Linked DNA regions of Homo sapiens. The protein of the gene in region 4 interacts with the protein of the main gene of each other region in a biochemical or structural test. Each region holds a gene or a part of one and is shown on either strand. Other genes may lie near its edges. The genes, in order: DTNA, PLEKHA1, SNAP23 and SNTG1.

Evidence for each region.
Region 1: the proteins of SNTG1 (region 4) and DTNA form a complex in vitro, tested with the Homo sapiens proteins (one study listed by BioGRID).
Region 2: the proteins of SNTG1 (region 4) and PLEKHA1 form a complex in vitro, tested with the Homo sapiens proteins (2 studies listed by BioGRID and IntAct, with this or other methods).
Region 3: the proteins of SNTG1 (region 4) and SNAP23 form a complex in vitro, tested with the Homo sapiens proteins (one study listed by BioGRID).

What each region holds. Positions count from the first base shown.
Region 1 is NC_000018.10:34,705,948-34,713,304, forward strand, and holds the start of DTNA (dystrobrevin alpha), read left to right. Parts: upstream 1-4,350; 5' UTR 4,351-4,498; intron 4,499-7,357. UniProt on the Homo sapiens protein: May be involved in the formation and stability of synapses as well as being involved in the clustering of nicotinic acetylcholine receptors.
Region 2 is NC_000010.11:122,370,857-122,377,722, forward strand, and holds the start of PLEKHA1 (pleckstrin homology domain-containing family A member 1), read left to right. Parts: upstream 1-3,851; 5' UTR 3,852-3,950; exon of another isoform or gene 3,951-4,105; intron 4,106-4,484; exon of another isoform or gene 4,485-4,703; intron 4,704-4,721; exon of another isoform or gene 4,722-5,245; intron 5,246-6,866. UniProt on the Homo sapiens protein: Binds specifically to phosphatidylinositol 3,4-diphosphate (PtdIns3,4P2), but not to other phosphoinositides. May recruit other proteins to the plasma membrane.
Region 3 is NC_000015.10:42,498,629-42,505,656, forward strand, and holds part of SNAP23 (synaptosomal-associated protein 23), read left to right. Parts: intron 1-7,028. UniProt on the Homo sapiens protein: Essential component of the high affinity receptor for the general membrane fusion machinery and an important regulator of transport vesicle docking and fusion.
Region 4 is NC_000008.11:49,914,401-49,921,428, forward strand, and holds part of SNTG1 (gamma-1-syntrophin), read left to right. Parts: intron 1-573; exon of another isoform or gene 574-622; intron 623-7,028. UniProt on the Homo sapiens protein: Adapter protein that binds to and probably organizes the subcellular localization of a variety of proteins. May link various receptors to the actin cytoskeleton and the dystrophin glycoprotein complex.

The DNA.
Region 1 (7,357 bases), on a different chromosome or scaffold from region 4:
TTCTGAATTTTTTTTTCGAGATGGAGTTTTGCTCTTGTTTCCCAGGCTAGAGTGTAGTGGCGTGATCTCAGCTCACCGCAACCTCCGCCTCCCAGGTACAAGCGATTCTCCTGCCTCAGCCTTCCAAGTAGCTGGGATTACAGGCAATACGCCACCATGCCCAGCTAATTTTGTATTTTTAGCAGAGACGGGGTTCTTCCATGTTGGTCAGGCTGGTCTTGAACTCCCGACCTCAGGTGATCCACTCGCCTCGGCCTCCCAAAGTGCTGGGATTACAGGCATGAGCCACCGCTCCCAGCCATGAATTTTTAATGTATGAAGAAATACATCAAAATGTTGATACTTGTTATTTCTGATAGTTGAATTATAAGTGCTTTTAATATTATTTCACAAATGTTTTCTGTATTTTTCAACTTCTCTACAATGGACATGTAACATTATCTTTTCATGAGAACATGGAAAGTTACAAGTTTTTATTATTAAGTTTAAAAACCAACGTATTTTTCACTAAGAATACATTCAGAATATAAGTATATAATTATAATTTTTAAACACATGAAAAAATACAAAAACAGAGGCTTGAGGATAAATTTCCAAAAATGATATGGCAAAATGATTCAGAGTTCACAATAGGTTATCTGTAAGATATGGAGCCATCAATTTCATAGTGTTATTTAAAAACGGATATTTTCTGTGATGTACTCACAGAAGAAAAACATAAAGAAATCCTTATTATTTATAGCCCCATTGTTACAATTCAAAGGAAAAGTGCATGTTTGAAATATCTTAAGGGTAAAATAGAATATCTTGATATTAAATTGTATAAATTGAGATGGCTTGCAACAGACTTGTTCTTTCATAAGAAATTTTTATGAGCAGAATAGATACTAATCCGATTAATATTTTTTAGGTCAGCTGCTCAAAGTGGCCCAAGAAACAATGTGCTTGCAAAAATTGTTCAGTAGATCACAATCTTTTTTTGTTGCTGTCAACACACTTTCTTTTTTAATTTAAACCAGTGCCCTAACAATAAAGCACTTTGTGGTATGAAAAAATAAATAATAATTTTTAACTATGATGTGAAAATTGCATTTTCAGAGGTTCAAATTGTTTTGCTTGTTTTAATTTCATTAACATTGGCCATCAACGTTTTTTGCAGCCATGTTGCTTAATTTAAGCGCGTGACTTCTGAGCCCATGTTGTTACCTTGAGTTTGTAGGAAATTAGGTGCTCTCACATCTGAAGAGAGGGCAGTGAAGCATATAACTTTGAAGCTCCCTCCTGCTTCTATGGGACTAGGATTTGGCAAATTGACTTCCTGGGGTACCTTCTGAAGCATCATTACCTATGTCTCAAAAACTTTTTCTAAGTGATTGAATTCTTCATATGAAATTAAGTGGGTCACAAGAGCACAGATTATGTTGCATATTTTGTTCACATGAGGGGGAAGTTTAATTTTAACATTTGCAAAAGGGGATTTAAAACTTTGTGAAACCAAATATACTGGCGTCGTATTCCCTAGGGGTTAAAGAATCAACAGTCACTTTAACATCTGACAAAGGATGCACCTTCTGTTTGGCAATCAATCATATTAAATGCTCTAGTAACAGTGTACCTTAACTAGATAAATGATAAGCTCTTACATTTACAAAATGAAAAACAATTAGATACGTGTAATGGCCACATAACCAATCTCCAGGGGAAAAAAATGTACAAGGTAAACACTCCTGATGAAATGAATGCAGTCAGTGAGAGTCTCTATTCAGCCAGCCACACATGAGAATAGGTATGAATTATTCAAATTGGGGTTCAAATTATTCAAATAGTCTCTCCTTCATCAACTGTTTTGAAGAGGATTAGGGAGTGCTAATTTTCCGGTGTAGCTGCTCCTTGCCTTTTTGCCTGGTCGGCCTCACACATTTTTTTGGATTGGATCATCATGAGTCACCGCGCTGAAGGATTTTTCAAGGTTGGAGCAGTGCCAAAGCTATTTTAATCATCCCAACTGATTTGTTGTGGGGCTTTTCTTTCTTACTTACTTTTTAATGATAGAGAAATCTTGCAATGTGCAACATTCACTTTATTCTTTCTGGTAACTTCCTGCAATGAAAAATAAAATTGTTTTTTTCTACCACAGGCTTTTTTAACCCCTGGCTGCTTCTTTGTACCATATTCTTCAAAGGGATTTTAATGCTAATTTTCCTATACCATTGGCTTTGGTGTCAGGTAATTTCCTGAATTTGATTACGATGGAGAGAAGCAGCTAAAAGTCTACACTGGTGAGCAGTTTACAGTACTTGTTAGAGATCAAGGTGACCTTGTAAAGGCTTCTATTGACACAATATTGGTTAATTACTAGAAATGTAATCTATGTATATAATTTATATTTTAAAGCCCTTTATGATGAAGATTCTTTACAGTTCATCTTAATTTGAGAAAGTATCATTAACAAATAACATATAGACCATTTTTTAAGAATCCAAAATGAATACCACAATGAACTGCTGTACTTGTGTTTTTCTTCCATATTTAAAGATGAAAAAAATTAACTACCATGTTTAACATTCTTCCCACAGTCCATTTCATACTAGAAATATGCTTAACCTTCTGACTGATCAGTTGCTCCTAGCTGGTTTGTAGGTTGGAGCAAGCAGCCCTTGCTCTTTGCCTAAAAAGGTCTCTATATTTATGCTGTGTTGTTATGTAAACCTATGTTAGGAAACATAGGATTGTTAATGCACATCTTGTTGAAAATGACAGTTTATTCAGCAAAGGGAAGTCACGTGCCAGTCAGCTTTCTCATGGTCCCTCTTGTTCAAAAATCACATATTGACTAAATAATACTAGCCAGAATTTATTGAGCATTTAGTATGCTTCAAGCTTGGTGCTTCCCTTGGACTATCTCATTTAATCCATTTCCATTCCTTGTTAAAGTAGGAATTTTACAGAAGAGTAAACTGAGGGTTAGAGAGGTTAAGTAACCTATCCAAGATCACAAAAGTAGTATGGGCTAGAGCCAGATTTCAAATCCGCATCTGCTTGATTCCACAATTGCTCTTCTTAAGAACTCCTCTGCCTTGCCTCTCTTTGTGATGTGATGTACTAAGAAAAATTCTGTGCAGATCTCTGAAGGGTTTAACCACAGCAAGCCATGCTCTGAAGACAGTCCTGGAGGAGTTGAGGGAAAGCTTTCAGATGCCATCTTTATCCATTGAAGAAGTAGCCCTACCTAGTGCCAAGTCTTTTGATGGTTACTTGGTAGAGAAAGATGAGTAAGACAATGTTCCTGTTCCTCTGGGAGTCCATCTCTAAAGAGAGAAGATAGATATGCAAACAAATTATTGTGAAATGTAAGCTAAGTTTGGGAAATAAGGAAGGTTGTGCAAGAGCAGAGTGATTATGCGAGGCCTGAGGGATGAAGTAGCCATCCCTGGAGGACGGGGGCACCCACTGGCTGATTAATGTACCATGGTGGGAGGAAGGACCATGCTGACATGCTGGCAAGCGGGGAAGCTCCAGTCACCTGGGACTCCTTCAGCTTTTCCCTAAAGGACTGGTAATGCGCTGAAGGTGATTCCTTAAATCCTAACTACATAGCCATTGGTTTGGGGAGTCCCAGGATTGCTCAGAGTTTGTATCGTTTCAAATCCAAGACTGCTGCTCTTAATATAGAGCCCTCCCCACCTCAGCAAATATAGCCTGATCGATTCCAGCAGGCTGTGTTGCCTGCTTTAAATTTAAATGATAAATTTTAAAAGAACTGAAATCTGTTTAAATAACAGTTAAACACAGGGTTTTGATGAAAAGAAAATGAAGAATTTTACCTCCCACATCTAAGCTGTGATTAGAAGTTTGCTCTAGAAAAAAAGCACTTTGAAACTAGCCCTTCATACACTGATGTAGTGTTTTCAGCATCTGTGTTTACTGAATACATTACTGCATTTTTTAATGTTTCTAAAGGAGCTGTGGGATTATTGCTGCATTTCCTATTGAGTTAGTAACTGACATTTAAAAATATTTAGTTGGCTGATGTAGTAGATAATGATCAGTATTTCAAAAGATTAATGGTGACTTAAAATGCATAGAGATATTTCATTAGTTAGTTGGGAAACCTTTTATTCTTATACTTCTGTTATTTTTTTCTTGTTCATGAAGTTGAGTCAGCAAGAGAAGCATATTCAAATTAGACTTGTCATACAGAAAAAAAAATCTGACTTTGTCAGGGTGGGTGGAGGGGAAAAAAGCAACTTTTTGTCAGTCTTTTGTATTTCAGCAGCTGGATTCATTGCTACCATGGTAACGGACCACATGATGAGGTGTATTAGATTGCTGTGTGTTGAGCACAAGGGGAAGAATGAACACAGCTTTTTATTGAAGTTAAAGGTTACTTTGGAGTTTGTTTGGAAATGTGTAAGGTCAAATACTATAGTTTTCAGCATATGTAGTACTTCAGAGGAAGAATTAAGGGGCATGTTGGTGCATTTAACTACAAAACCAGGTAAGGTACAATTGAATCTATGAAACTGAACTCTCTGACTTCTGTCGCAGTGGCATAACTTGCTGGGTGGAATTTCACTGTCGCCCCCACCCCCACCCCCACATGGGCACCCGATAAATTTCTCCTGCCCACCCTCCTAGCTCCTCCACCTCCGGTTTCAGCTGTTTTTAATTTGAAAGTCTAAGATGTTGTGAAATGTTATAGTTTTATGGCAGTGTGTGTGTGTGGGAGTGTGTGTGTGTGTGTGTGTGTGTGTAAGTCAAAGAAAGAAAACTGCAAAGGAAGTAATAAGAATGCAATAACTGGTGTCTTCAAATCAGCGTAGACCTGAACAAAGTGTTTTCTTGTTTTGTTTTTTGAAAATGGTCCGCTTTTCTTAGAGGACACCTTATTAGTGGCATTTGTCCAAAGCTACTTGTCTCTTCTACTAAATTAAGCAGTAGGACAAAGTTTTCCAGCAAAGTTATCTAGTGTGTTTATTGTATGTGAGCTTTTGTTTTTCTTTCATCATATTATTGCGAGCCTCATCTAACATGTATAGTCCGGTTTTATCTATATTTTTTAAAACATCTATTATTTCTATTAGCATTCTAATCTTTTAGGCATTGTGGCTGTATGTGTGATACAGGATTTAAAAATAGAAGTAAATACAACATGGGTGAGTGCAAAATGAACTCTTTTGCTTAGAGGCTGGTAGGAACTGAATGTAAACAATTCAGTGTGGCTGTGTGGAGCATCAATTCCCAGAGCGCAGACGCCTTCTCATGCGTTGTTTACATATCACCCTGGCAGCTTGTTTCAAAATGGGAGGCTTTGGTACACACAGAGCAAGTTAAAGGAGAACAATTTCTTTAATAATAACTTATTTTAATTACTTTTTCATGGCTTTTACTGATGTTTGATGTTTGATGTTTGACTTTCTCATAAGATATTAGGATTTACTCTAATTTTAGCCAGGGGTTTACTTAATGCAACTTCTTTCCTTCCTCTTAGAACAAAGCTGTCTTAGCAGCTTTTAGAAATAAAACCTAATTAAATAGTAGCAAAGCCCTACTGTTATTCTAGTGTATTCACTGTCCACCTGAAAAAGTGCAGATATAGGAAAATCTTTTTGAAAAATACTTTCTTAGTGAACTAAAATCAATTATGTGCCCTTAATTGGCACTAATTAGGATAAAAGCCAATAAATTTTCCCAAGTTTGTTCATACAGCATGCTTTCTTACAAAAGGAAAACTTAGATTTTATTAAATTTATTTATGCTCTGTGATTTTCGTCGCTATTTCCTTGATCTCTCTAGTTTCCATATGTCCAAGCCATTTTCTAAGTTTAAGCAAGGAATTATAATCATTATTCAAAAAAATTATTTGCCATGATTTCAAATAAAGAGAACTGTTTCCATGATGACAGATATCAAAAGTACTATAATAGCATCTAATATTGTAAATGTTCATGCTTGTATCTGAATTTATTCCTTTCTTTTTCCCTTTGTTGTTTGAGTACAAATGAGCTATGACCATGTCTTTCAAAACATGAGATATTTTCATAAACATAAGTTGTTACTACTAGAGAATAGGGAGTTTCTAAAAATCAGTGAAAGATGGTACCTGGTAAACTATTCTAAAGTATGAAATTATTGAAACTGACAATATCTGAGGTAGAAAGTGTTATGTTTTATTAAAAGAAAAATAAAAGAGGGAAAGAAGAAGCAAGACAGAGACACAGAGAGAGACAAAAAAATGAAAAGATATACAAAAGGTAAAGATAAAAGTGTAAATGATCTCTTACCCAAGCATTTTTCTTTCCCGCCGGTACTGGAAAGGGTTAAATCTGTATCTGTCAGAGAAGAGAGTAGTATGGATGAGGGAAATTACTAAAAAGTATTTTTATTTCACTATTCCATCTTTAAAATACATGATAAAGTATAGATAGTTCCTTTCTATTAAATAAAATGAAAAAAAATCTACAGTGAGGTTGTCTCAGTCTTTGTAGTTATGGGCTACCAGCCAGCTTAGATATTAGAGCTACAAGTGTGTAAAAACCAAGATATGCCCAAATTTCTGTGATCTTTATTCATCTGACATTAGACCATATGTACACAAAAACTTCTGAAATAATTTTAACAGAGATCACAAGATGGAAGATTCTTTTATAGTTGTTTTGGTATTTTCATTCTTAAGAAGCAAAATTGACTTTTGATGTACTTGCTTTAAACTGTAAATTTTGCCAGGATGTTTTAATTGTACAGTATTTGTTTCAACTCTTGTTTAAATTATGCTTTCTTGTTAATTTTGAATAATTTGTAGTGTTTGTTAACATTTTAGCTTTAATCTCTAGAGCTGCCTAGAGTCATAGACCAATAGATAATTATCTGCAAACATTTACCTCTACTAAGGAGACAGATATTTAACAGTTTTTTAACATGTTAAAAAACAACCATATTGAGTAAAATAGTATAGCCTCTGCTAAAAAATTAATGATATTTAAATTCCAAGAAAATATTTCTAAAATAGATGAAGATCAAGCCAATGAATGATGACTCAATATCATCTAGATACTCCATTTTTAGGAGTTATTTTTTAACCTCCGATTTTATTAAGGTGAATTTTATTATTGACCACTATGTAATTTTTGACATGAAAAGAATTGGATTTTTTTTTTAGAAATCTAAGACTTTTCAAATGAAAAAGAAAGTAATGGTACCATGATCATGATGATAATGATAACGACAATAATGATTAATTTGGAGAATAAGATAGATTAGAAAGCTCTTGCCTCTTTGTGTAGTAAAAGGCCAATGCTCTTAGAAGGAAAGTGGAAATTACTAATGGGTAGTATGATTCTCAGAAATTAACCCTCAA
Region 2 (6,866 bases), on a different chromosome or scaffold from region 4:
CATGCTTCCCCTCACTTGGTCATTGCCAGTTGTGAGGCAGGGTCAGAAAGCCAGCTCCGACTCTTCACCCACAGAAGCAACTCCACTGACTCGCTGCCTGGAGTTCTTGTGCCATTTTTACACTAAAAAATAGGGAAAAGCCGTTTTTAACTCTCTGCTACCCAGTTTCTGGAGGGGACACAAAAAGAACAAAGCCGGGTTCAGAGAGTGTTCAGTTCATGTTTAATTCTTGTTCTATCTTGGTTCTGATTTCTGGTTAGAACAGAGGTTTGCTTCTGGAGGTACTCCTTCTGCTTGGCTTCTGATGCTGGCTCTGTCCATAAAGGGGACTGTGGCATTCATCATTCAACACATACTTCTGTTGTAGGCACTAAGGATACAAGCAGGAACAAAACATAAAATCCCTGGCCACGTGGAGGTTACAGTTTAGAGGGATATGCAGAAAAAAAAATATATATGCACATATATAATATGTACAAAAGTGACCATTGCTAAGGGGAAAAAGATAATGCAGGAAATGCTGCAGACATCAAATATTAGAGAGGTGACTAGCATTCAGGAGCTTTCTGCGTGCCTCTGTACGCTGCTTTTTGTGTTGTCAGAGGGGCTGACGTCTGTCTGGAAGCCCCAGAGCCCAGCACTAAGCATATGGAAGGGGCCCAAGAGCTATTTTTGAATGAAACATCAACGTACTTCACACGTGCAAAGCATGATGATAATGATGACAGTGATACTTTAAAGGTAAACTGCAGGCTGGGGCAGTGGCTCACACCTGTAATCCCAGAACTTTGGGAGGCTGAGGAGGGGGGTAGATCACTTGAGGTCAGGAGTTCGAGATCAGCCTGACCAACATGGAGAAACCCTGACTCTACTAAAAATACAAAAATTAGCCTGTCATGGTGGCAGGCACCTGTAATCCCAGCTACTTGGGAGGCTGAGGCAGGAGAATCACTTGAATTCAGAGGCAGCGGTTGCAGTGAGCTGGGATTGTGCCACCACACTCCAGCCTGGGCGACAGAGCGAGACTCTGTCCCTTCCGGCAGAAAAAAAAAAAAAAGTAAACAGCTAAACTATAGATCCTTGAATTCAGACTCCTCCTTTTTCTTCAGATGAAAAGTAGCCATGGAATATTCCAGCATTCCTCAGTGCCTTCAGTGAGTCCTGAGTGTTCTTGGTTTGCTCCCAGACTGTAATTTCCCTGTACTATTTTTTTTTTAAATAGCACTGAAAGCACTGTTATGTAATAAACCTCTGCATCCAAAAAAAAAGAGGCTGGAAGAAAAGCAGAGAGCTTTTTTTTTTTGTCTCTGTATTTATTGGCTGATCGGGAGCTATGAAGTTCTGGTTATACTGCAACCTCAAAGCAGTCCTGGGATTATCTTGTTGTGTGTCCTTGGGCAAACTGAGTTACTTTTCTGGCTTTCTTTACTGTATGTAAATATGGCTCTCAATGATAAACAGTTTTGGGGACTTGTTATGCAAAAAGAACAAAGGAGCAATTTTTTTTTCTTGAGTCCCGTTCTGTCCCCCAGGCTGGAGTAGAGTGGCACGATCTCAGCTCACTGCAACCTCCATCACGTGGGTTCAGTTGATTCTCCTGCCTCAGCCTCCCGAGTAGCTGGGACTACAGGTGCCCACCACCATGCCTGGCTAAGTAGAGGGGGTTTCACCATGTTGGCCAGGCTGGTCTCAAACTCCTGACCTCAAGTGATCCGCCCACCTTGGCCTCCCAAAGTGCTGGGATTACAAGCAGGAGCCATCACATTGGCCAAAGGAACAATTTCAAACCACTCATCAATGATGTCAAACAACATTTAGGAGAGAGATCCGGCGGGTCCAGCCTGGAGAGGGTGAGAGGCTCTTGGCCTAAGTGTTCTATTCTCAGGACCAGTATTTTCAGATCAAATAAAAGATGTGAATTTGACTTTGAATTTCAAATAAACAAATTTCCCATCTGGAATCTTCTAGGATTCTAGCACTGACAAGCTAGAGACTCCTTCCAGACCTTCTAGCCAGGGAAGGCAAACTCAAATGCCTACAGGGATAAGACAGGTGACACCTAGATTTTTATTTTTAAATGTTAACCACACATTCAGTTAAATCAACAAAAACCCACTGTGTGGACCAAAGGAAACAATCTGCTCTGGCTACTTTATAAACTATAGTGAGGCCAAACCCTTTCAACCATTATACAGATGAGGACCCCAAAAGGGACAGATGTCAGCAAGGCTGCATAGCTAAGGTTTCTCAAAAGATAACCAAAATATCACGTTGGATGAAAGGCAATTGAAAATGCTAAGTCTCAAAGAGGCAGTCAGAGAGCCGTTCTATGCAGTTTGCAAGATGTTTTCACCTCCATCAATTTATCAGACTCTGAGAACATTCTGCAAGGCAGGCAGGGTGGATGACACTCATTTACAGTCGAGGTCACTGAGGGTCAGAAGGGCAAAGTGTCACTCTCTGCATAAAGTCACATAGGTAAGTCTACACAGGAAAATCTAGGGCTGTTCTTCACTACACCTCTGATTCAGATAACAGGTAGGCTTCCTCTAAGATTTTAATAAAGACAAACTCAAAATCCTGTATGATGCCCCATGAAGAGAAACAAGTCAGGAGGCCAGGCTGAGCCCCCAGACTTCTAACCCAGTTCGCAAATAAAGAAAGTGGCAAAGTAGATAGATTCCAGCCTGTCACCAGGGTTGTGTCTTCTGTCCTAGCAGCTGTACAGCTTGTCTTACCACTGGACATTTGTTTCATGTACATTTTCACATAGGAAGGATATTCTAAAAGATGTTGATAAAGATTTTTTAAAGGGTTTGAAGGGGATAGGATGTGATCTAAGGTTGTGCAAGGAGAGGAAAGGAAGAAGCACACAAAAAGAACAAATATTTATTAAGAGCCTAGAGTGGCATGCGCTGTGAAAGGCGTGGCATGTAATTCTTTCCCAGTTCTTTGCCTGTCTGAATATTTCTCATTCTTCAGGTTTCAGCTCAGATATCACATCCTCAGAGAACTTGCCTTGCCACTCTCTCTGAAGAGCCTCCCCCCGTCCCCGCCACCGCTACTGTCTCTTGAACTTTCTCAGTCTGGCCATTCTATTAAAATCTGGAACGATTTTGCTAGTTTGCGGACGAGTTTCCCCCAAGCTGCAGGCTCCATAAGGGCAGTGACAGTGTCTCTTTCTCAGATGAATGCCGGGTTGCCTATCGCGTACTTGGCACACAGTTAAGTGCTCGAGAAATTGCTAAACACTCAACGAATATTTACCAGAATACATATTTATGCTCCACCGTTGCTGAAAGAATTTCGACTAACCCTTCTTTAAGTCTCTCTTACCCTCCTGTACTATTAACACCATTGTAAGTAGGCAGTGGAGCTACATTTGCAGGGAGAGAGAAGAGCGAAAAATTGGCGCGCAGAGCTGTAAAGCGTTTTTCTCCAGGTCACACCGCAGCCTGTAAATTTGTGACACTTGGACCGATTATGGGACAGCTTGCAAACAAATTATCTGCAAACTAACGAAGCCTATTTTTAAAGATCCCTGTTCCTCGCAGCTCTAGGCGATGACATCAGAGAACCCGGAGTTCTACCTCCGAGCCAAGCCCAGTGGTGGTCAAAAACTACGAATACCAGGAAGCACCGCGGCGCGGCGGCCCAGAGCTCCGCGCGCAGGCCTCCCCGGCGCGCCGAGGCCGCCGCCGCTGGAACCAGGAAGACGCCAGAAACTCGGCCCGCCACGCCGCAGGGACCCGCGCGGGGCCTGCCGGGACTCGTAGTCTCTGCGGGCTGGGAGCGCCCGCTCCGGAATCTCAGCCGCCGTCTGAGGGCTGAGGCAGCGTGGGGACGCGTGCGCAGTGCGCGGGCTGGCCGTCGCGGACGCCGCTCCGGGCAGCCGAGCCTCTGTGGGAGCCGGGGCCGCGGCGGCGCGGGTGCTCCGGGCCGAGGCCGCGGTAAAGTTTAGCTTGAAGAACGCGGCCGCGCTGGAGCAGGGGTGGTGGACGGGGCCAGGCGCGAGGTGGCGGCGGCTGCGGGGCTGCCGGGCTGCTGGAGCGCGGTTCCCGCTGTGGCGAGCGGGGAGGCGTCCGCAGAGGGGCGGTGGGTGCTGGTGAGTGCGGAGCCGGCGCCCCCTCTGCGCACGTCCGCGCCACGCGCCACAGCACCTGGAGGCCGCCGGGCCGGCTCACCTGCCCTGGCTTGGGGCAGCGGGAGGGGGCGGCGTCTTCTTCCCGTGGGTCCCCGATTGTTTTCCCGACGTCAGCCCTCAGCGGCGCCCGGCGGGGGAGGGCGGGAGGCCCGCGGCGGTCGCGGGGCCGACGAGCTCCTCGGCGTCTCCGCCCCCCGAGAAATCCCGCTCGGGGCGCGGTGCGCGCAGCTGCCCGGGGATTCCCGGTGGCGCCGGTCGGAGCGCCTCCCTCCAGGGCTGTGCCCGCGGGGCGCGCGTCCCCGGGCATCCTTTCCTGGTGTTTAATGCATTTTGGCTTCAGGACTTGCCGAGGCCGAAGCCGGCTCCGCCCTGGGCCCTGAAGTCGGGCGGTGTCCGCGATTTACCTCCGCACCTTCGGGGCAGGTGGCCAGAGGCAGCGTTGAAAGCGACTTGCCCAAGGTCACGCAGGTGGCACCGGGGAGGCGACCAGACCCAGGTCTTTCGACGCCGAGGCCAGCTGCCAACCGCAGAGCTTTGGGGCCGTCTTGAGTGGTTTGTGGTTTGTTTCAGATGCTTTCTATTGACCTCCTGGAAAGAGGGGAAAGTGTGTCATAATGAAAGCGGTCCTGTTGCTTATAGTGTTTACCGCCTTTGGTAGAATTCTGGTGAGGCTGTGCCCCCGCGCAGAGCATCTACCGTGGTCTGGGCGTATAAATAATGAAACTCCTTTGCTCTCTGGGGGCAGTACAAGAAGAGGTTCAAGGAACAAATAAATATCCAGGCAGTTTCTGCGTTTTCCTCGTCTGTTTGTTTCACCTTCCAATTCTGCAGTACTGGTTTTCTTATTTTACAATTGATCGTTGTTTTAATAAGATTTTCTTTGTTTTAATGAAGTCATTGCCCCTTGTGAGTTAGTTTTCTAAATAGAAAATCTTATTTCCTGTGTGTTTAATGACTGGAACAAATAGTGCACTATGAGGTTTACACCATTGTCTTTCATCTTAGAACTCCTGATCAATCTGCTTTATTTTCCCAAGTACTCAGCTTGCATACTTTCTATGTTAATTTGATGCCACTGAAACCATTTACAGCAAAGTTTGGGTAAGAGTTATGTGATTGTTTTGTGAAACTGTGTTTTTCTTCACAATCTGAAGAACTTGAAGACCCGTTATATTAAAATAATAAGATTTATTCTGATCAAAATACCTGTTTACTTTTCATGCTCTTAATTTTTCCTGTTGACACACTTGTGGCAAAAGAAATATTTCCCCTAGTGGAGTTAAAGTATTTTTTATCTTGGCCAATTTTCCCAAGGAAAATTGCATTTTAGAGTACTGATACATTTAAAAAAGAGTATTTAAGTTTGACAGAATTTGAATTAATAAAGTAGTTAATTTATTTTATACTGCCGTAAACCTTACACTGTATCTACTGACAGTTTTCTCTTGTAGCGTATACCTGTATCAAGATATATGGCTGTGAATTTAGTGACATTAAGAAGATATATATATATATATATATATATATATATATAATATAAATATATGTGTATACACACCGCGCGGGCGCGCGCAGAGCTTCCAATCTTTATCTTGTTAATTAGTATTTTCATTGTCGCTTTGGGAGGGGGGAAAGTAGCAGGTTTGTATCTTTTTTTCTCCCCAGTTTTAGCAGTGTAACAAAATAGGAAAGATGGTGTGTAAAATTGAGTTTGTCATAGACTAGGAGAGACAGTGAAACAGGATAAGTATACAATTGTGAGGAAACTGCCATGAGTTCATAAGCCGGAAGGACCTTTTTAGAAGTGTTTAAGGATGTTAAGAATAGCATTGGATTCTTTTCTTTAAAAGTCATTCAAGTATCGTTTGCTAACATATAGGATATGACAATATTGACCACTCCTAGGAAGATACTTGGGAAAGGTGGAAACATTTTACATTTTTATGGGGACTTCCCCCCACAAAAAACATTTAATGGAGATTTAAACAAAGTGGCTTTTTGACTTAAGCCTGGAAGTTCTTTATTATTATTAGTCATGCTGCAAATCCCGAAGTTATTTTAATTGTGTGATAATTTGTAACCCAGAATGAAATCTAATAAATAGTTTATTAATATAATTTAAGTCATACTTTGACATTGACATATTGCTTGATGTCAAGTCATTATTGTTTAAATAACTTATTTGAGAATGGGGAAGATAGTTTTCTGAATATAGTGTAGTAATTATTTGTGACAATAGTAACATTGCTTTTATTAGAAAATTTTGGGTTGATATAACTAACTGCCTTAAAGTATTTCCTATTTGATTCCAACTGTGAGCTGAGGTAATATGCAAATAATTACTTTTCTCATGCTGGAGCAGTTTACTTTTGTTAATATTAAAATTTAAATTTCAAGATTAAAAAATCTTGTTTTAGATCTGCAATGATACAATAAAATGACTTCAATAGGAGTTAAATATTAAGATTTGGTTTTAGGTTTTTTGACCATTTGTGAGTACACATCCAGCATTTAAGAATTTATTGACATGGTGTCTGAAAGGAATGCTTTCAGAAAGGGCAGAAAACTTGGTAGCTTTAGATGATTGTTTATAATGCTTAATTATTTTTAGAAACATAAAAATATGGGATGTTTTTATGTAAACATAAAGCATCCTGTTATTTGTTATAGCACTAGAACTCTCTTACACTTACTGAGCAATATTAAACCATTTGACCCTAAG
Region 3 (7,028 bases), on a different chromosome or scaffold from region 4:
GGTGATTAACATTCAGCTCCTTGTTACTTAACGCAAATTTCTACAGCTGGCTTAAATTTCTTCTCTTTGCTTTATAAATTACTTGGTGGTCTCAGCTCAGTGATCCAGTGATCTGAGTGATCTCAGGAAAAGAAAGAAATATTAGCAAATAAGAGAAACACCTTACATTGCCATACTCCTTTGACAGGTCATGTGAAAGTAATTTAAGTGATCATATCACTTAGCCTGCAGCTTGAATATTTGTCTCAGGCTAGGTTTTACTTTAGGTGCTTGTAGTATGTGTTTATGCACTAGAAAGTTAGTGTTATCATAGTTCCAGCATAAGGATGTCTTACTGTGCCAAATAAACAGTGGAATTCCTATATGTATCTTGATATTTGTTTCTTGTACACTGAATGAACTTAGGTACAATACACACAAGCCCACTTAACTAAAGGTCACATCTTTTTTTTTTTTTTTGACAGAGTTTCACTCTTGTTGCCCAGGCTGGAGTACAATATCTTGATCTAGGGTCACCTCAATCTCCACCTCCCGGGTTCAAGCGATTCTCCTGCCTCAGCCTCCCGAGTAGCTGGGATTACAGGCAGGCGCCACCATACCTGGCTAATTTTATATTTTTAGTAGAGACGGACGGGGTTTCTCCATGTTAGTGAGGCTGGTCTCGAGCTCCCGACCTCAGGTGATCCGCTCGCCTCAGCCTCCCAAAGTGTTGGGATTACAGGCGTGAGCCACCGCGCCCGGTCTAAGGTCACATCTTTTCTAATCATTTAGAACACAACCTAGAACCAGAAAGAAAGTAAACAAAAACAGGCCTGTACTCATGGGACAGCTGTGGAGTCTTCACCTATGAGTCATACCACCATCATAATTTTTGCCATTTAGAGTACTGTTGTTATTTTACTTCATGTTTAATGGGTTTTTTAAAAAAACATTGCCCACTTCCAAAGTGATAATCTGTGAAATCATGGTTTTTATGTATTTTATAGCTTTTTTAGCATCCATTATAATAAATACATAACTATTAAATATATAACTCTTTCATATGTAACAGTTAAAATCATATTCTTGCTCAGCACTTTGGAAGATACTGCTTTGGGCCTAATCAGCTCATTTTTAAAATGAAGATTGAACTAAAGCTTATGGGCTTGAAAATTCTGTGATCTCTATGATGATGTTCATTATCATAACACAATTCTAGCAAAGTTTACTGGTTCCACCAGATGAAAGTAGATTAGGGCCGGGCGGTGGTTCATGCCTGTAATTCCAGCACTTTGAGAGTCTGAGGCAGGAGGATCGCTTGAGCCCAGGAGTTTGAGACCAGCCTGGGCAACATGCCAAGACTGTCTCTACAAAAATTTTTTAAAAAACTAGCTGGACCTGGTGCCCAGTGCCTGTGGTCCCAGCTACTCAGAAGGCTGAGGTGGAGGATCGCTTGAGCCTGGGAGGTCAAGGCTCCTGTAGATTAAAATAACAAAAAGGAAAAAGAGGATGTTTGCTCTTTGATATCAGCTGCCTTTTTTTTTCCCTGAATTCAGGCTTTCCCCCGCCCCCGCCCCAATTTGGTTCCTTTATCTGCAACACTCTGGACATCTGTTTTTGAGCTATGTTTGTACTCCACATTGTGTATATATTAGCATGTATAATATTATAATGTTGCTTATCTCCAAGAGTGCTGAACTTTTTATTCCATTACTATATTTTGTTTCCAGATCTGTAGGTTGACAGACGGGCAGATGACAAGGACTGCTCTTTTCTTTTCCCTTTTTTTTTTTTTTTTGAGACAGAGTATTACTCTTGTTGCCCAAGCTGGAGTGCAATGGTGTGATCTCGGCTCACCGCAACCTCTGCCTCCTGGGTTCAAGTGATTCTCCTGCCTCAGCCTCCTGAGTAGCTGGGATTACAGGCATGCGCCACCACGCCTGGCTAATTTTTTGTGTTTTTAGGAGAAACGAGGTTTCACCATGTTAGCCAGGCTGGTCTCAAACTCCTGACCTCAGATGATCTGCCTGCGTTGACCTCCCAAAGTGCTGGGATTACAGGCATGAGCCACCTCACCCGGCCAGGACTGCTCTTTTTCTTTGCTGTGATAGGTAGAAACTTGAAACAGAAGGATCCAGTGCCTCTAACAATTAGAGGAAGTGGATTATGGAGCCAGGAAACAAAATGTACTGTGTTTTTTTAAATAGTAAGAGTAGAAGAAGCCCATTTGTATTCATTTAGATTCACTGACATTTTGGTTTGGGTTTCAATTTAGGTTGTATTGCTACTAAAGTATTTAAATCACTGATTCCTATGTTTTTCCAGAATTCTCTCTTCTTGTTGCTTTCTGTAAGTTCTGTAACTTAGATGTAAAGTTTGTTTAAATTTATTTTGACAGTGTTTTGGAAATTGAAATTACTTTCGATGGCCTTTCAATACTTATAAAACTCAAGCCAGGTGTGGTGGTGTGTCTGTAGTCCCAGCTACCTGGGAGGCTGAAGTAGGAGCATCAGTTGAGGTCAGGAGTTCAAGACCAACCTAGGCAGCATAGCAAAATAAATTTCAAACTTCTTGGTATAGTATACAAAGCTCTTCACAATATGTGTTCTGTCTTGAAAGCCATCCCCTGCCCTCCATACATACACACACACATTATATTCCTGCCTCACCACTGAAGCCTTACATTGTGGCTTTTTCTTCCTTTTTGATAATTTAATTTAAAATCATAATTTTTTGGACTTGATCATACTTGGATTTTGACCCACACAAATGAGAATCAGGGTGTTTGTGTTTTTTTGTTTGTTTGTTTTTTAAGACAGTCTTGCTGTGTCACCAAGGCTGGGGTGCAATGGCATGATCATAGCTCGCTGCAGCCTCAAACTGCTGAGCTCAAGTGATCCCCCTGCTTCAGCCTCCTGAGTAGCTGGGACTACAGGTGCACGCCACCAGGCCTGGCTGATTTTTTTTTTGTTGTTTAATTTTGTGTAGAGATGGGGGACTTGCTTTACTACCCAGGCTGGTCTCAAACTCCTGGCTTTAAGCAATCCTTTTGCTTTGGCCTCCTAATGTGCTGAGATTGTAAGCATGAGCCATCATGCCTGGCCAAAATCACGAGAGATATTTCATAATTATTATGAAAAGTTATAATAGTTTTATTGAGCACTGTGTGCCAGGCACTGCTCTAAATACTGTGCTTGAATTAGCTCAATCCATGTAACAACACTTAAAGTAAGCATTATTCTCATTTAATGAGGAAACTGAAGCACAGAAAAGTTAACAGTAATCAGGATTTGAAACCATTATGCCTTCAGATATTGGGCACATAACTACTATACTATGTTGTCTTTTGTATAAGCAAGAATGCCACTCTTTTCTGTTGGGGGTATCCTTTCCAGGGACGTGAGTGCTTATATTCTCTCTTTTTTTTTTTTTTTTTTTGAGACGGAGTCTCGCTCTGTCGCCTAGGCTGGAGTGCAGTGGCGCGATCTTGGCTGACTGCAAGCTCTGCCTCCCAGGTTCACGCCATTCTCCTGCCTCAGCCTCCTGAGTAGCTGGGACTACAGGCGCCCACTACCACGCCCGGCTAATTTTCTGTTTTTTAGTAGAGACGGTTTCACCTTGTTAGCCAGGATGGTCTCGATCTCCTGACCTCGTGATCCGCCTGCCTCAGCCTCCCAAAGTGCTGGGATTACAGGCATGAGCCACTGCGCCCGGCAGAGTGCTTATATTCGCTGTCTGTAGCTTCTGACTCTTAATATCGGAATATTTGAAAAACTAACCAGAAAGCATCAAAGTGGCTGGGTGTGGTGTCTCACGCCTTCTGGCATTTTGGGAGTCCAAGACAGAAGGATTGCTTGAGGCCAGGAGTTCAAGACCAGCCTGGGCAACATAGTGAGCCACCCTATATCTACCTAAATAAATAAATAAATAAATAAAGCATCTAAGTGAACTTAATCAGAGCTAAACTATGTGGATGGTTTCGGTGAATATTTCATTCAGGCAGGGTGAATCCTTGCCAATTAATCTCACCCCGTACTTGGTATCTCCCTGGCAGATACCACACTTATGCCTGCCACATTGTCTCTTCCTGGGTAGATTGCCAGCTTCTGGCTCTTGAGCCCCGTTCTTATCTTTCACATAGAACGTCCCCTTTCTGTTCACATAACCATTCTCATTGATAGGGTTAATAAAATTGATTACAATCAAACCTACATCTACCTCCCCAGTATTACTCCTGGGTCACTTAGAGTAGAATTGTGGAAGTTCCTAATTTGACAGGGACTTGAAGACCAGGCGTTGGACATCAAGCAATTAAGTTACCATAGGTGCTTCTGTAAAACTGAAGTTTAATTTTTTTTGTAATTAGAGTCAGGGTCTTGCTATGTTGCCCAGGTTACATTTAAACTCCTGGGCTCAGGTGATCCTCCTGCCTCAGCTTCCTGAGTAGCTGGGACTATAGGCCTGAAAATGTAATTTTGGTTTTCTTTTTGGTTCCTGATTTTTAGTGGGACTTTCCCATTTGTTAATATGATTTCTGTCTTGAATCTTGTGCTTCAGTGTACTTTGAAACCAAGCTGATTTTTGTTTGTTTTGTTTTTTCGTGTTGTTTTTTAAGATGGAGTCTCGCTCTGTCGCTGAGGCTGGAGTGCAGCGGTGCGATCTCGGCTAACTGCAACCTCCGCCTCCCGGGTTCAAGTGATTCTCCTGCCTTAGCCTCCTGAGTAGCTGGGATTACAGGTGCCCGCCACCACGCCTGGCTAATTTTTTTTTTTTTTTTTTTGAGATGGTGTCTCACTCCGTTGCCCAGGCTGGAGTACAGTGGCACAATCTCGACTCACTGCAACCTCTGCCTCCTGGGTTCAAGTGATTTTCCTGCCTCAGCCTCCCAAGTAGCTAGGATTACAGGCACATGCCACCACGCCCAGCTAATTTTTGTATTTTTAGTAGAGACGGGGTTTTGCCGTGTTGGCCAGGCTGGTCTCGAACCCATGACCTCAAGTGATCTGCCCTCCTCAGCCTCCCAAAGTGCTAGGATTACAGGCGTGAGCCACCATACCCGGCCTTTGGTATTTTTTAGTAGAGACGGGGTTTTTCCATGTTGGCCAGTCTGGTCTCAAACTCCTGACCTCAGGTGATCCACCCACCTTGGCCTCCCAAAGTGCTGGGATTACAAATGTGAGCCACTGCGCCTGGCCTGAAACCAAGCTGTTTAGTAGATACGATTCTGTGATGTACTTAGTATATTTGCATTTGAGTTATAGACTTTGTATGGTAAAAAGAAAAGAGTTTTTAAAAAGAGAAAAAAATATGTATGTATATTTGCATAGTTTTGGGGCCTATATATAAAAATGGTTAAAGTTGTTTGTGTAGAAGGAGATAGAAAGGAAAGCCCAGAGAGGAAGTAAAAGGAGGAAGCCATCCTTAACATAAAGGAGACCCTTGCCAGGCAAAGTGGCTCATACATGTAATCCCAGCACTTTGGGAGGCTGAGCCAGGAGCATCACTTGAGGCCAGGAGTTTGAGACCAGCCTGGGCAACATAGTGAGACCCTGCCTCTACAAAAAAAAAAATAATAATATAATAAAAGGGCCAGGTGTAGTGGTGGGCACCTGTAATCCCAGCTACTCGGGAGACTGGGGAAGGAGAATCACTTGAACCCTGGGGCAGAGGTTGCAGTGACCTAAGATTGCACCACTGCACTCCAGCCTGGGCAACAGAGCGAGACTCCGTCTCAAATAAAATAAAGTAAAATAAAATAAAATAAAAAGTGAGACTCTGTCTCAAAAAAAAAGTTGTATATAGCCTATACTTTATATCATCAACTTTAATATTCAAATTTAGCCTTGCAGATGGAACTATTAATATTTAGTAGCTATTACTTTCAGCTACATTTACATAAATGTGACTCATATTCAACATTGTTACTTTCCTTTTGTTTTGCCTACTATTTATTTCCACTTCAGTAAAAATATTAATATAATGGCTAACATTGAACACCGGCCATGTGCAAGGCATTGTACTAAGTACTTTGTGTAGATCATCTCTTTTTAATCTTCACAAAAAAAACAAAACTATAAAATAGAATGTTATCCTTGTTTTACAAATACAGAAACCGAGTTTTAGTGGTGTTAGGTAATTAACTTGGGGTCACACAACAAATACATTGTGAGGCTGGAATTTATATGCTGGAATTCCCACTCACCCACTATGCTATCCTGCTATAAACAGAAGTTTCCTCTTGCTGCGGATGCATTGGTTACCATGGACGTAGACTTCTATCAAGCCAAAGAGAATGCTGAACTTAAAAGTACAGTAATAAACCCTTTGAGTGTAACTCATTGAGGAGCTTTATTGTGATTAATTTTCAGAGAAGGAATAAGGCAGGAAACTAATTTGGTAGAATATTTTAGCTGCAAAATCCTTGTTTACCAGTATAAAAAGAATTATCTTATAAAATCATTCTTTGCAAGACCCTGTGAAATTGATGGTGATTTTTTTTTTCTTTTTTTTTCAGACAGTCTTGCTCTGTTGCCCAGGCTGGAGTGCAGTGAGTCTTGGCTCACTGCAGCCTCTGCCTCCCAGGCTCAAGCCACAGACGTGCACTACTGCACTCGGCTAATTTTTGTGTTTTCTTTTTAGTAGAGCTGGGGTTTCACCGTATTGGGCAGTCTGGTCTTGAACTACTGGCCTCAAGTGATCCGCCCACCTCTGCCTCCCACAGTGCTGGGATTACAGGCATGAGCCACCACGCCTGGCCTGATGGTGATTTAAAGTGCTCTTTCTTCATTACTTCTTGAGTAGCTCACCAGTTTTACAAATGAAGCCACATGGATCTTCCAAGGCCTTATTTAAATTCCAGGGCCTTTTTTCTGTGTATTTCTTTCCAAGAAGCTCATTTACTTTTCCTTTCTTCTTTTCTTCTCTTTTCTTTTACTTCCTTTCTGCTTGCATTTTTTTTTTTTTTTTTTGAGACGGAGTCTTGCTGTTGCCCAGGCTGAAGTACAGTGGCATGATCTCGGCTCACTGCGACCTTTGCCTCTCGGGTTCAA
Region 4 (7,028 bases):
TGTTGGCTGTTGCTTACATTTGAGACTCAAAAGAGAAAGGTGAGATGGGATTACATAATCTAGAAAATGTAAAGTATATATAGGACCAGAGGATAATTTAAAATGAGCCCTGGAATCCATTCAATTGCCTTCTTCCAAAATGTTATAAAAACACTTCTTGATTAATTTTTGCATAGACTATATAAATATTACTTGTATATTCTAATGTAATTATTCATACCATGAAATCGTATTGGATTTTAATGCTCACAGTTTGCCTTTGGAGTTATTTACTTGGGTTTCAATCAAGTTCAAACATTTATCAAAAAATATAAAAGTAAAAAATGACTATTGCTAATATTTAGTAATTGGCTGTTTTTGACCACTTAAAGATTTATAAATTCCAAGCAGCTAGCCTGCTTACTCACCTAGTTCTGTTAAGCAACACAAAAGCCACTAGGAAAGAAAAAAGCATATTGTAAGCTAGAAATTATTTCCATAGTAATCTCACCTTCCCAGAAATCTGTACAGTGTGTTATAGAATAGAATTCAAATGGAGAGAGATCTCTTATTTGGTGTTTTCTTCCTATTTAGCTTAGCAGAGTGAGCACATAGCATGTGTTGGAAGAGACAACATCCTGTGGTAAGAAACATGTTACACATCATGTTGTAGGGAAACAAGTACTACTTGACAGTCAAAAGATCAGAATTTTTTAACTGCTGGCCATAAGATCTTCTACAAGTCACTCAATCCACTGCAGCTGAATTTTTCTTCCTTAAATTTGGGGATTCTTTACTTTTCAATGAAGACACAATAATTTACATACAGCTGATACCTGAACACTCATGAGATAAGTGAATGATGCCTACTTTGTGGGATACTGGAAAGTCGAAATTCAATGATTTTGAGAGTGTTTTGGAAACAAGTGTTATATCTGTGAGTTATTATAAATAATTTCCAATAGCATTCATTCATTCGTCAAAAAAAATCCCACTAATTACTAAATAACAGGCACATCCCTTATACTTAACAACTCTCAGCATAGGGAATATAATACTTCCCTGATACTTCAGCAGTCATTTCCTTTACATCTCTTAATGGTATAAATATAAGTGATATTCAATGAAGGTGGACTTGGTTTCAAAAATATTTTATTACTCAGAACTGACACCACATTCTATATCAATTGGACAAACTTAGTTGACCTGAGTCTATTTCAACAACTTTCATTTTGACCTTCAAAGAATCTATCATGTCGTGTCATAATTTTCTAGTTTATAAAGGAGGATTAATGTTTGTCATTAGTGATATTGATAAGGAAACTCATACGATGAAATACACTTCAAAACTCCATATCCTAAAACATACAGAAAGCATTGTGATTTGACTGCTGGCTTGTGAGCATGGAGTGAAATGTGGACAACATGCGGGCTGATCTAAGGGGCTAGCCTGGAAATGCTGTTAAGATGTTGTTTTGATTTAGTCGAAAGCCTAGATTTTATTCATAGGCCTCTTTAGGACATCTCTTTAGAAAATCGAATAAGCAGTATTTCATTGCTTATTTGCTTTTCTTAGTCGGGTTTTAAACGTCACTATGATTTTTTCAATGTAATTTATCAACATTTGGTCTGTATAGATTTCTAGACTATCACTAAAAATATACTGACAGTATTCTTAGGAAATATAAGTCAATGTTTGGTGTTACAGTTATTTCCAGCATTGTTTTGTGGTTAAATTATATAATTGCACCAGCGATAAAAAATTATATCATCACTTACTTAGTAATATAATTCAGATTTTTTTTTGTCAAATACACACACACACACACAAAAACCCAGAAACAGTCAAAAACATAAAATGAAAAAGAACTGAGAGTAAGAGGTCATTAAAATAATGTCTTGAGGCCAGAGAATTTATCTTTGAATTATCCTTAAATTTTCACCGTGAAGTTTCTTCAGCACATTCTACACACTGAAAGAGTCAGAAAATCATTTTGGGTCTCCTGAATTTGGTCTTCAATTTGTCAGCAAAGATAAAGTGATCATGTTATATTTTTTTTCAAAAAGAGTGTCATTAAATCAATTCATTTGAATACTTGCTTATTATCACTTCATCATATGTAATGTACATACTTGAAGATATTTTTAAAATTAAAAATTGTGAAGTAATTATATGCTCTATGTTTAACAAATTTACTCACAATTTCGGTCTAAGATTTAGTTTTTTAAAAGAATAAGTGCTTGCCTGGTAAATTCACTAAATAAGCTAATAGAAAATAGAAATCTTTTAGAAATGGTGCCAAAATTTGAACAATAATGTGTTACTTATATAAAACTATGAAAAGGCCAAGTACAGTGGCTCATGCCTATAATCCCAACACTTTGGGATACCGAGGCAAGAGGATCACTTGAAGCCAGGAGTTCAAGACCAGCCTGGGCACCACAGTGAGACCTCGTTTCTTCAATAGAAAAAAAAAACATAAAAAATAAAAAAATAATATCTGGGTGTGGTGAATGTGCCTGTAGTCTCAGCTACTCAGGAGGCTGAGGTAGGAGGATCACTTGAGCCCAGCAGTTTGAGGCTGCAGTGAGATATAATCACATCACTGCACTCCAGCCTGAATGAGATTCTATCTCAAAAAAATATATATATTAAAAATAATAAATTTTATTTGAATCTTTTCAAGGGGTGAGAAATAAGTATGTGAGATTAAGAAATTTAGATCATAGATGAGAAAAGAGTATTTTATGGTTAAAAATGCATCCAGTACACACAAAATCTGAGGTTCAACATGGTTTGTCATCAATTGGTTGTGTGGACTTGGGTAAATCACTTTATCTTAATTTAACTGCTCAGCTATATCCTTGGTCCTATTGGTAAATCATTATTATGTCCATGAGAAAATAAACAATGTCTATGTTTAGTTGAACTCATAAACTTTCCTTCCACATCTGTCATGCCATTCTTCTTGAAAATGTTTCCGTGCTCTCATGGTGGAACATACATGGGATTTAGAATCAGACTTAAGTTCGAATCCTGTTATAGAAATGGCATTAATGACAAAAACTTGGGCAAGGAATGTGAAGTCTCTAAGTCTGATGTCCACTGCAGTGTGTTGCTGGGAACAGTTAATGAGCAAATTGTATACAATGGCTAGTACATTGACCGGGATTTGTTGAAGCTGGTGAGTGTTATGACTTAGCCTGTTAGACTAGTCTATGCACATGGCTCTGATCAACTACCGCTCTCTCATTTCTCCAGATAAATCCCCCATGCTTTATATTCTCTTCCAAACATACTATCCTCATCACCACATAGTTCTTTTGTTAATGCTTTGTTCTAGACTTTCCCTTTTCTGTTTTCTTATTCAAACCTATATCTCTTTGCATAGATTGTAAATTCAAATGCCCTCAGGGTGCAGGCAGTTCATGTAAGGAGGGAGGCTAGCCAGTGAGATCTGCATCACACTGCAGAAAGTGAGCCCGTCAAGAGTCCTCGACTCAGCTCTGCTCAGTTAGAACAAAACGTGAGAACTGAAAATAGAGAATTTTGTGTGAAATCTACTTTTTGCTTTACCTAATTTCATTGTTAAAATTTTGCATGTAGCGAAACAGACTACATGCTAGATTCCACACATAGCTGCCGAACCTTTTCGTTTCCCATTTCAATGACATTTAATAGAAACCCTAAACTGAGATATTCAGTCAGATTTTTTCCAGACCTTTTTGTTTTTATCTAGAAATGAGACAATGAACCACGACTTGATGAAAAGGTTCATCTTAATATGTTTTTACAATTTTAAAATAAATAAACCTAAAAAATAATGAGTGGCTGAGATAAAATAGATACTTCATGTTTTTGAATGGGCAAAAGTTTTGTGGGGAAAAATTAACTCATAGAACAAATAGGAATGAAGATAGGTCAATAATATTACATAATATGTTTTATTCCAGCATCTTTTCCAGCTACTGTTTTTGCCCCTCATACACATGCAACAGCTACAATAACCCAGATAATAACCTTGATTAACAGTGAGACTAAGAAAAGATTATTAGTTATTGACTAATATCTGCAAATATCCCTTCTTCCCAGAATACAAATTTTCTACTTTTGTGCCTACTCATATGTGTAAAAACAGATAATTTCTTTAGAAAGTTATTTTTTACATTTCATCAGCAAATTATAACACACTCTATAGAATATTCTGTTGGATTTCACAAATTGGAGGCAGATGTCTTATTGTATGTTCGGTGATGTAAGTCCACACACCCACACAACCGCACAAACACAGGGATGGATAAGATTATGCTTTGGTTTGATATATGGCAATTTTTTTTTGTAATTTCTTCTTTTCTAATCCTTGTTAATAGTGACTGTGCCAAAGGGAAAAACAATTCTGCAGTTATTGATGGAAAAAAAGGAGCTTATTTTGCCTAATTGGTATTTGTATATTTTAATTTCTTTTTTTGCTAGAAGTGACAAAATCCCAGCTTAAAGTGGCTTAATCCAAATAAGCAACTAAATAAAAAATATATTTGCAAAAGAGAATTACTGGCTTATGCAGTAGCAGATTATAGCAGGTATGGCTTGATTAAAGTGTTCAAATACTATCCGCATTCTTCAGTGTTGTCTTCATTCCAAAGTACGGTTTGCCTACGTGATAACATTTGCCTCTTTCTCTGTTCTCACTGTCTTTCTCCCTCACTCCTGTCTATGTTTCTGTTTCTGTCTGTCTCTTTTCTCCCCCTCTCTTCTTCATCTCTTTCTCTGTCTTACTCACCTCCTTACCAGTTATAGTTCTACAGTGTTTCCTTCCCAAATCCAGTTCACTTCCTCAATAGTTCCAGTAGATGTACTGGGATTGACCAAGGGAATATTACATATTGGGCTGGATCTTGAAGTAGGATGGGCTTTACAAAACCACACTGATTGAGGGGTATTAGTTATTGACTAATATCTGCAAATATTCCCTCTTCCCAGAACACAAATGACTAGCATAGTGCAGTTTTCAGTGAAAGGGGAGACTACATTAAAGGATAGAAAAGAACAACACTTGTCCTCTACAATGCTAGTGAAGAATCTACCCAAGATTTCTAAGTCACTGAATTTATCTACTGCTGAGGGAATACTCAGCAAAAGTGGGCTCATTGGCTTGTTGTTTCTCTAAAAGCTTTTTTTTCCTAAGGAAAGAATGTCTTAAGATGAAATGTTTGACTTTAAATGTAATTAACATATCAAAGTTTTGTGGGTGTCCTTTTACTATATTATTAACAAATGAATAATATGAAAAGGACACACAAGTGGATTAAAAAATCATTGGGGATAAAAAAATAGTTATTCCAGAACAGTTATTTTTTCTATATTTGGTGACTTTTTTCAGTAGTTTTAAATGATATTTCCTTATTTAACACATGGTGGAGCCTGTTCCAGCTTAGCTAGACTATTTCCCTTTTGTTTTCCTGGTCTGGTTTTAATCTTGAAGAAGTAAAACTCCCGAAAGTAGATTAATCTACTTGTGTACATTTTACACCATTATTATAGATGAGCCAATCAAGAGTAATACAATAGCGCACACTTAGAGTCAAAGTAAGTCAGATTGTGGTAGTTTGTCCAATTCATTAACTTCATAAATTAACTTTATTTTTCTCTTCAAACACATCTTTTTCTCAACTTAAGAATCCTTTTAAGCGATTAGAGAAAACTAAAATATGTCCATTATCTACCTAAGTCATTTGCTTTTATTTTCCATATTGTGTTCTTTTCCAAGAAATCTCCTTGAAGTTGGAACTAGAAGTTTCAGTATAAAGTCTTCATAGGGCATAATAAATGCATTTGGGAAAATGTAACCCTACACTTTAGTTTCCGTTCGTAATACTATTTTCTCACATTCTATGTGTTATACATGATTGTTAGAGTCCTGTTTTAGGGAATCTCATGTGATTCTCACAGCAGGACTAGGAAGCTGACTTTTTCATTCCTGTTTTGCAAATGGGACAATCAAGCTCCAGGAAAGTTAAATGCTTCTCTATAGATTAAGTCAAAATTGAGATTTAGGATCAATATTTAATGCTTTTCTATTCATAAGTGGTTTAGGAAGAAAAACTGCCTCTCTTCTTATAACACCTATTATAGGCTTGACTTGCTTTAGATTGCAGTAAATAAATAAAAAAACAAATAAACAACAACAACAACAACAAACAGAACAGCTGAATTTCATTGACTTTAGTTTTACTAACTAAGTAACTGGAGGCGTTTAGATTCTCAAGAATCTTGAAGGGTTCATGTGTTATCTTGATCTTAATCTTATACAAACAGAGAGGTTTTTGGACAGCATAATCACATGTTGAAAGTCATATTTTACAAGCTTCAGGGAACCATGGTGGACCAGAGTTGATTCTATTGCAGAATTCAGACTTGAGATGATGAGAGCTGGACCTAATTGGGTGAAGGTTAGAAATTAGCCTATTAAAACTAAATGACTAGATGTTAGTGATGCCGCTATCAAATAAAACAAGAATCAGGAGGAGGCCAAATGAGATAGTGTTTTTGTGTACTAGGTAAATGCTCACATATGTAAGTGTGAAATACGCTTCTTTGGAAGGAAAGATGTGATATCTGACATGGGACATGTCAAATGGATAATGAGAGGACATAACAACCAAATGCAGGTGAAGAACCCATTAATTTTAGAAAGAGGGTAAAACCTGACCTATCTAACTCAGAGCTACCGAAGTGGAGATTACTGCTAAAGCTATGAAAATTTATTAGCTATTTGAGAGAATAAAAGAAAAACAATTGTTTACAGACATAAATATCTTTCAAAAGTAAGAAAAAAATAAGAGAAAAGAAGGTCATAAAAGAGTCGTAGAAAGTGTAGGGGAAAGGTATAAAGGAAAATGCATGGAGTTCTAACAAACATACCATGGTTAACAGTGTTGATACTGCACAGAAGTGAAAGGAATGGATGTTTGAGGTTCCTTTGGGTTTGCTCAAAAGCAGATCACAGGGCATCCTGGAGAGAACGATTTCTGAAAAACGATTAACATAA